Linked DNA regions of Homo sapiens: region 1 is linked to region 2. The links come from fine-mapping of genetic effects on gene expression. A gene starts in region 2. The other region holds a variant in brackets. All regions are shown on one strand. Distances are from middle to middle.

Region 1 (4,385 bases), 27 kb after region 2:
TTTGTCAAGTAGGTTTGCCTGTCCATTTAGTACTCAACTACTATAGTAACAGTTTTTTTTTTTGTGGGGGTGGTTTGGGGGGTGGTTTGGCATATGGTACATATTTCTCTGAGCTTTGAAAATAACTAATTTCCTTCCAAAAAAAAAAAGAGAGACTTACCTCAATCTTTTTTTCTTCTTTTTTTTTTCTTTTATTATTATTATACTTTAAGTTTTAGGGTACATGTGCACAATGTGCAGGTTAGTTGCATATGTATACATGTGCCATGCTGGTGTGCTGCACCCATTAACTCATCATTTACTTCAATCTTATTATGAAAGTAAACATTCAAAAACCCCAACACACCCTAGAGCAAACTCTCAATGCTCCAGGTACTGATTATCCAGTTTCCTTTATTCTCTCTTCTGTGGACCATGTACTTGGATGTTTACATTAGTCAGTAGCTCTATAAAAAGTCTGATATTACATATGTTGTTGGACTGTGTGGCAGTTTCCTGATCTCTAGATTGTAGCTATGGTGCTATCTTCTTAAACTTAGTATTCCAGTGGTCATCAGAGGCTGTAGCTCCTTTGGTGAGTTAGTTCAGTAGTGTTCTGAGAGTCATTCCTAGAGGTCTCACATATAGCCTGCTCCTTCAGCTATTCAAATGATTTTGTAAGTACCTAATTTTCTATATTAAATTCCCTTTCTGCTTAAAATATCAAGAGTGGTTTCTGTTTCCTTCTAAACCCTGAAAGATACAAGCATTAAGAAGCTAATTACAACACAACTCAGTAAGTATTATTAAAAAAAGAGTGAACGGGCCAGGCGCGGTGGCTCATGCCTGTAATCCCAGCACTTACATGCCTGTAATCCCAGCACTCATGCCTGTAATCCCAGCGGAGGCCAAGGCAGGCGGACACAAGGTCAGGAGATCGAGACCATCCTGGCTAACATAGTGAAACCCCGTCTCTACTAAAAGTACAAAAAATTAGCCGGGTTTGGTGGCAGGTGCCTGTAGTCCCAGCTACTCGGGAGGCTGAGGCAGGAGAATGGCGTGAACTCGGGAGGTGGAGCTTGCAGTGAGCCGAGATCACACCACTGCACTCCAGCCTGGGCCACAGAGCGAGACTCCGTCTCAAAAAAAAAGAAAAAAAAAGTATGAATGGGGAAAAGTAGGAGCATAGAACAGGGAACTTGGAAAAATTACTCCAGAGGTAACATTTAAGTTGGAATTGAAGGTGGAATAGGAATATGCTAAGCAGAAAGGCATTGGGAAGGGGAGGGAACAAGTGCATTTCAGGAAACAAGATGTGCTGAGGTATGGTTATTAAAGACCACCATATATTAGAAAGACGGTGAGTTCGCCATGGCTAGACTATGAATAGGATGGGGAGAGATGAGGCTGTAGCAATCATAAAATACAGTGGGGTTAAGAGTGCTGCCTTTAGGGGTAGCAGACATGACTCCAGTTCTGGTTTCTCCATATAGTAACTAAACAACTCTGGTCAAATCTTGTAAGTTTGAGGACTTTCAGCTTCCTTATTTATCAAGGAAGGACTTGTATCTTTACTTGTAGGCACAGTATCCACTTTATTATGTGGAATTAAATGTGACATGCATATGAAGTACATTGTATAGTACTTGGTGCATACCAAGTGCTCATAAGCCTTTGCTATTACTCTTTTATTTATTTATTTATTTTAGCCAGGG[C/T]CTCACTCTGTTACCCATGCTGGAGTGCAATGGTGTGAACACAGGTCACTGTAGCTTCTAACTCCTGGGGTCAAGCCATCCTCCCGCCTCAGCCTTCCAAGTAGCTGAGACTACAGGTATTTGCCACTATGCTTGGCTAAATTTTTTTATTTTTAGTAGAGACAAGGTCTCTTTATGTTGCACAGGTTGGTTGTGAACTCCTGGGCTCAAGTGATCCTCCTGCCTCAGCCTCCCAAAGTGTTGGGATTACCAACATGAGCCACCATGCCCGGCCTGCTATTTACTATTACTGGGTAAATTAAGAACAATTAAATATCATGAAAGTTGTGCTATGGCAGGTGGAAGATAAACTGAATGAGGAAAACCTAGTGGCTAAAAGACTAGCTGCTGCAATAGTTCGGGCAAAGGTAATGATCTGAAATAGAGTAGTGGTGATGGAGATGCAACGAACTGGTTGGCTTCGGAAGTCATCTTTGGTATTTAAATGCCAGGATTTGGTGGCTAATTGAATGTGAGGGAATTCTGAAAAGACTGAGAGAACAGTAACATCATTAATCTGGATTAGTCATGTACAAGGAAGGGCGAGTCTAGGTGACAGCTGAAGCTCTAATTCCCTTCAAGTCCAAGGCCCCTTTGAGGAAGATGGCTCCAAGTAATTCATTTTTTTTGAGACTGATCTCCTTGCTCTGTCGCCCAGGCTGGAGTGCAGTCGCATGATCTGAGCTCACCGCAACTTCTGCCTCCTGGGTTCAAGTGATTTTCCTGTCTCAGCCTCTCGAGTAGCTGGGATTACAGGCGGGCACCATCATGCCTGGCTAATTTTTGCACTTTTTAGTAGAGATGGGGTTTCACCATGTTGGCCAGGCTGGTCTTGAACTCCTGACCTCAAGTGGTCCACCTGCCTCGGCCTCCCAAAGTGTTGGGATTACAGGCGTGAGCCACTGCGCCCAGTGCCCCAGCTAATTCTTTCATGAACAACATTGATATGACCACTATCACAAGCATCACAAGAAACAATCTGCTACTGTTGAATGCTTCAGGGAGCAGGACTAAAACGGACCACTGGTCCTGCAAATAGGGGATTGGGTGGTGATGATGGTAATAGAGTGGCCAGATTGCAATGGATTAAGGAGTAAGTGGGAATTTAAGACCAGGTATAGACAACTCTTTCAAAAAACTTGGCACCGAAGTCGTAATTGCTTCAGTGGGAGTGTGAAGGATTTTATGTATTTGTTTGGTCAGAATGCACACTCTTCTAGTGTGCAGAAGCTGGAAAGCTAAAGACTAAATTTCCCACATTCTCTTCTAGCTAGCTATCTTAAATCACTTCTGAATTAAGTTCTGCTAATCAGATGCACTAGTGTTTCACTTGGATTCTGAAGCCAGCAGGGGTTAAGACGGGGTGCAGGGCATCCATTTAGGGATGCTGACAGTGGCAGAGGTGGTTACTTCTTGGACTAGCAGCTGCAATGGCAGCTTCCTAACTATTGTAGAAGCTTCTTGAATGTAGTAGAAGCTTCCTAAATATAGTAGAAGCGGTAGCAGCTCCTTTAGCAGTCTTTTTTTTTTTTTTGAGACGGAGTTTCACTCTGTTGTCCAGGCTGGAGTGCAGCTCACTGCAACCTCTACCTCCTGGGTTCAAGCAATTCTCATGTCTCAGCCTCCTGAGTAGCTGGGATTACAGGCACCCACCACCACGCCTGGATAATTTTTGTGTATTTTTCGTAGAGACGGGGCTTCACCGTGTTGGTCAGGCTGGTCTTGAACTCCTGACCTCAGGTGATCCACTTGCCTCGGCCTCCCAAAGTGCTGGGATTACAGGTGTGAGCCACCGTGCCCGGCCTGATTAGCAGTTTCTTTTTTGAGGCAGGATCTCACTCTCTCACCCAGGCTGGAGTGCAGTAGTAAGATCTCGGTTTACTGAAACCTCCGTTTCCTGAGCTCAGGCAATCCTTCCATTTCAGCCTCTTGAGTAGCTGGGACTGCAGGCGCATGCCACCATACCCCAGCTAATTTTTGTATTTTTAGTGGAGACAGGGTTTCACTATGTTGCCCAGGTTGGTCTCCAACTCCTGGGCTCAAGCAATTTGCCCACCTTGGCCTCCCAAAGTGCTGGTATTACAGGTGTGAGCCACCACGACTGGCCTCCCTTAGCAGTCTTTAGGAATCATTTCTGGAAGTCCAGTCTAGAGTTTGTTTCTTCAGCCTTCCCCAGAATTCTGTGATCCATCCATTTGATGCCCTAGTAATAAGTCCTTTACTGCTTAATCTAGCTAGAATCGATTCTGTTCTCTGCAACCAAACCCTGATTAATATGGAGAACAGGGTATATATTTTAAAAAATAAACATAAACATTTTCATAGCTGAAAGAGTTAAGGAAAGAGTAGAGTTAATTTAAAGAGAAGAGGGTTGGGTATGGTGGCTCACACCTGTAATCCCAACACTCTGGGAGGCTGAGATGGGAGGATCACGTGAGGCCAGGAGTTTGAGACCAGCCTGGGCAACATAGTGAGATCCCATCTCTACCAAAAAAAAAAAAGAAAAAAAAAAAAGAAAGAAAGACCAGTCATGGAAGGTGGGAAGATTGCTTGAGCCCAGGAGTTTGAGGTTGCAATGAAGTATGATAGCACCCCTACACTCCAGCCTGGGTGACAGAGTGTGGCCCTATCTCAAAGAAAAAAAAGCTAAAG
Region 2 (4,385 bases):
GGGGAAGGGATGAGAGAGCTAGGTCCTGTTTTAGAAGAGGACTTTAGGGACTACAGGATCAGGCCAGGGGCCAGACAGACACCTAGGGGACCAGGAATGTGTGAAGTCCAGATGTTTTAGAGGAGTGTTTTAAAGGGAAATTTAGGGGAGGGGGGAGTAAAGAGAAGGTTAAATGCCAGACAACTAGATACTCTGATCTGCGGGAGGAGACCTCATCCCCTTCCTCCTTCCCTCTTTTCTACTCCATTAGGGCTGTGATAAGAAGTTTGAGGGAACCTGGGGGAGACCAGGCCTGGCAGAGGCTCCAGGCCAGGGTGATGATGCAATGGGGTTTGGGCAAAAGGCCAGGGGGGTGGGGTGGGGGTTGGGTGGGGACCTTGAATAGCCCAGAACAACAGTCGGGGCCTAATCATTTTTCTTTTCTCCCATCCCCAAGTCCTCCAGACAAAGGAGAATTTGCCTTTCTCCCCAGTTGTATTAGCTAGATTAACCCCTTTTCTCCAAAAACTATAGGGACTGAGTAGAGATCAGTTAACTGTCTCATGTGTAAAAACAGGTCGCTTCTGACAGAATTCCCCTCAAACCCTGAGATCCTGGGGTTGGGGTGGGGGTGAGCAGTAGGAAGCTCCCAGCTCAGAGATGTAGAAGAAAAAGGATTACACCAGTCATTGTGGAGGACCAGGAATCTGGCATCTATGGCCTAGCCCAGGAGCAACCACCTACCTCTCTTGCTTCCCAATCTCCCCGCCATCCCACATTTAAACAGACACCCTTGGTTCTAATGTTGCTTCCACTCTAACTCCTGTTTCCCAAGCCTGTCAGTACCCCATTTTCTAGGCACTCGGGGTCCGGGTCTGCTTATCACTGTGCTGAGTTGGGAATAAGGATCCTCCTTTGAGATTTCCAGGGTCCTGAGTCCTTCATTCTGACGTTCTTGGCCCCACGGAGCCCCCGTCTCCCCAGCTTCCGACCCCAGCCCCAGAAGTCCCGGTCTCAGCACAGCTCCAGCCGACCAGCTACAGGAAACCAGCTTTTCTCTTCCTCCCAAGAGCCAGAGGAAGAGGGAAACCGCCCACCCCCCTTCACGCGCGCACACACCCCTCCCGACACATCCCAGCACCCGCCCTTGGCTGAGTTCGCCCCCAGCCCCAGGGCCCCAGTGCCAGGGTCCCCGCACTCGCCCCCAGTTCTCGGATCCCCTCGCCTGAACAGAGATTGGGGGCGGAGGGAGGAGTAGGAGACAGAGGAGAAAGGAGAGGGAGCCGCCGTCCTCTCTCGGGTCTTTCCCCGGTCTGAGTTGAGGGGGGAGGGGAGGATGAGGCTGGCCCCCATTTAACCTTCCGACCCCCTCAGTCTTTGACTTTCCTCCTACTACACGTAGCTCATTCGGCTTCTACCCGTTCTCTCGCCGCACAATGGCCCCTACGGATCCCGAGGTCTCCTGGAGCCCCCAAAAGCCCTTCCCGGCCTCTGCGCCCCCTCTGCGCCCCCACCCGCCCCAGGTCCCAGCAGCCCACAGACTTCAGCCAGAGACCCTCAGCTCTCCATTCACGCGCTCTCCTCTCCCTTGGCCCGGAGACCCCTGCCCAGACTTCTCCAGCTCCGTGTCCTCTCCCCACCGGACACATGTCTCCCCACTGATCTCAAACGCCAGGGCCCCTCCTCACCCGCCACGGTGCCCTCCCTACTCCAGCGCGGGCCCCCAACTCTAGCCAGGGCCCCCAACTGCAGCTCTATTCCTTACAAACTCCACCCTCAAACTTAAGCCCTGGTCCCCTCCAGACCCCAGCCGCGCCCCCAGTCTCCAGGCGGCTCCCCCACCCCCATCCCGTCTCCAGCCCTCCTCACTCACCCGTCTGTTCCCGGCCGGTAAAACTCCACTGAGAATCCGAAGAAGGAGCCCGGGGGCCCCGAGAGTACTGCTGGGGCCTCCGCGTCTAAGTTGAAGCCCCCGACCCTGGGTGGCGGCGGCAGCAGCAGCAACAGCAGCGGCAGCAGCGGGGGTCGGCGCCGGGGGCCCCAGCGCAGCTGCACGGCGTGGAGAGGGGACTCTGGCGTCCGGCTCCCCATAGCGCCCGCTCTTCCCTGTCCTGGGGCCACCGACCCGGAGCCGCTTCCTAAACCTCCCAGAGGCGAATGACTCAACGCGGGGAGGAGTTTGCCAAACTCCCGGCTGAGCCCTCCCCCCGCCTGCCGAGGGGGCTGGCGGGGGGGCATTCCTGGGTCCCTGGAACTCTGAGCCCGCGTCCCCCACCCCTAAGGGGCGTGGGGGGGGGGCGCACCCCTCCAACCCCCTTTCCCCAGCCCCAGCTGGAAGCCGGTTGTCTGGACTGGGTTAGACTGGGCGGGTTTGGGTTCTTCCCCCTCCTCTCTGCTTCCCCCTCCTTCCTCCCCATTCCTTTCCAGATGTACAACGTAAACGCTCGGAAAACGAGTCGGAAAAGGGAGCGGAGAATTTCCTAATGAGGAAAGGAATCACCTCTGGTGGGCGGAGGAAGCCTGTATATGTGTGTGGGGTCTCCCTCAGTGCTTTAGGGAGGAGACTTTGGGGTCTAAAGAGACAGGAGACTCCTCTGGCGTCCGGCCAACTGGGATTCCCCCTTGCCTTCCGGGGCCGCCGGGTGCCTGGGTTCTGGCCAGCTGGATTTGGGACACAACAGTTGAGGTACAGAGACAGCGTTCGCAGTCAGCTTGCTAGAGGACCTACACGGGCTCCTCAAGTTCCGCTGCTTCCTCCTCCAAGCTTGCTAGTATTGAAAACCCAGGAGTTTGGGGTCATTCATCAGGAGGATTCTGCTCCAGTTTGCCCCCTTCTTGGTCCTAGGGTATGTAAACCTCTGCTGAGCCCCTTCCTTGGATCTGACAGTTGACCAAAAGCCTGCGAGTGGCTGGCCCCTCAGTACCTGCTTGATTAAACTGGCCGGGTTCCTACAAACCTGGAGAATTGTGAGAGGTGGTGGTGGTGGTGGAAAGTCTTGCAAAGGGACCCAACCTTCAGCTCCTAATGGCTGTAAACGCTGGGAGCTCTGGCCAGGCACGGTGGCTCACACCTGTAATCCCAGCACTTTGGGATGCCGAGGTGAGCAGATCACCTGAGGCCAGGAGTTCAAGACCAGCCTGGCCAACATGGCAAAACCCATCTCCACTAAAAATACAAAAATTATCCAGATGTGGTGGTCCGCACCTGTAATCCCAGCTACTCGGGAAGCTGAGGCAGGATAATTACTTGAACCCAGGAGGCAGAGACTGCAATGAGCCGCGATTGCACCACTGCACTCTAGCCTGGGTGACAGAGCAAGACTGTATCCAAAAAAAAAAAAAAAAAAAAAATCCAAAAACCAAAAACCAAAAAAACAATGGGAGCGGAAAGCCAGGACCCCATTCTTCCCAGATTCCCCTGTGGAAGTAGAGGAAGGGACTCTAGAAAGGGAAGGCAGTGACCCCCTGCCCACCTCTTCCCCAAGCTCAGGCTCTGTGTGATGAGATCACTTTTCAGGATTCTAGCCTTTATCTTAGTCTGGGGGAGGGGACTACAAGTCCTTTCAGTCTCTTTCCTCCAGGACTCCTCACTTTCCAGAATAATACCCTGTCAATAATATCCTGTCAACCCTGTCCCTTCTGTTCTCCAGTCCCCTGCCCCACTTCGGGCTGAAAGGCTCAGAATAAGAGTGCCCAGAGTCAATGTTTTTTTCCTGCCATGACTCTCCCCCTCACTCTGCTACTCCACTTCCTGTCCCAAATCACCCATCTGCTTTTTTAAAAGCCCCCCTCCAGAGCCAGCTGCAGCCCAAGGGAGAGGCTGGCTGGCCAGACTGTGGGGCAATGCTGGCCCGTATCCCATTCTCACATCTGCAAGTCCTGACCCTTTCTTAGGTGAGGAACCCAGGGAATCTCTGGGTCAGGATCTTTAAGCCCAGCATTGCCAAAAAGGCAACCTTTAGGTGAGAGCTACTCAAGCCATGGGCTGGGAACCCCCTTTGGGAGGAGAAGGGCTGAGGCCTGATTGCTTTTTAGCCCAGCAAAACACGTGTGTGAACCAAACACTCTCCTTTCTCAGTCTAGGCAAACTCTTTAGATTTTCCCAGGATTTGGGAGATTAGGGGTGGGGGTGGGGAGGGGTGCAGGGAAGGAGGTGTGTGACTCAGCTCCTCCCAGGAGCCTTGGTGGGGGACAGGGGACATAGCGTCCTGCCCCAGTCCTCCTCCCCACTCCACCCCTAGCCTTGGCCAACTCAAACAGGCCCCCTCCCTGTCCATTCCCTGCTCCTGTTTACACCGGGAGCCCCTTAGTCATTCTTTGGCTGGCCTTTCTACTCTCCCCAATATCCCTCCTCTCTTGGCTCTTTCTGCCCTTATAAGTCCTCTCCCAGTGGCCCCAACACCTCC

The links. PIP is the estimated chance that this variant, and not a neighbour inherited with it, causes the effect. A credible set is the group of variants that fine-mapping cannot tell apart.
Region 1: its variant is the best candidate, but not a certain one, in a credible set for the expression of ITGA5 in whole blood (TOPMed, PIP 0.88).

The regions. Positions count from the first base shown.
Region 1 is chr12:54,443,951-54,448,335 of GRCh38, forward strand. The region is part of intron 3 of GPR84-AS1 (GPR84, ZNF385A, ITGA5 and GTSF1 antisense RNA 1); the gene reads left to right. Among named protein-coding and RNA genes, the nearest start is that of ITGA5, 27 kb to the left of the region's middle. The variant C/T (reference allele first, on the strand shown) is at 1,695.
Region 2 is chr12:54,417,129-54,421,513 of GRCh38, forward strand. It overlaps ITGA5 (integrin subunit alpha 5), which reads right to left and starts at 2,138. Exons shown (of 30, transcript NM_002205.5): 1 at 1,853-2,138. The coding sequence starts at 2,070. All of the region lies in intron 2 of GPR84-AS1 (GPR84, ZNF385A, ITGA5 and GTSF1 antisense RNA 1), which reads left to right.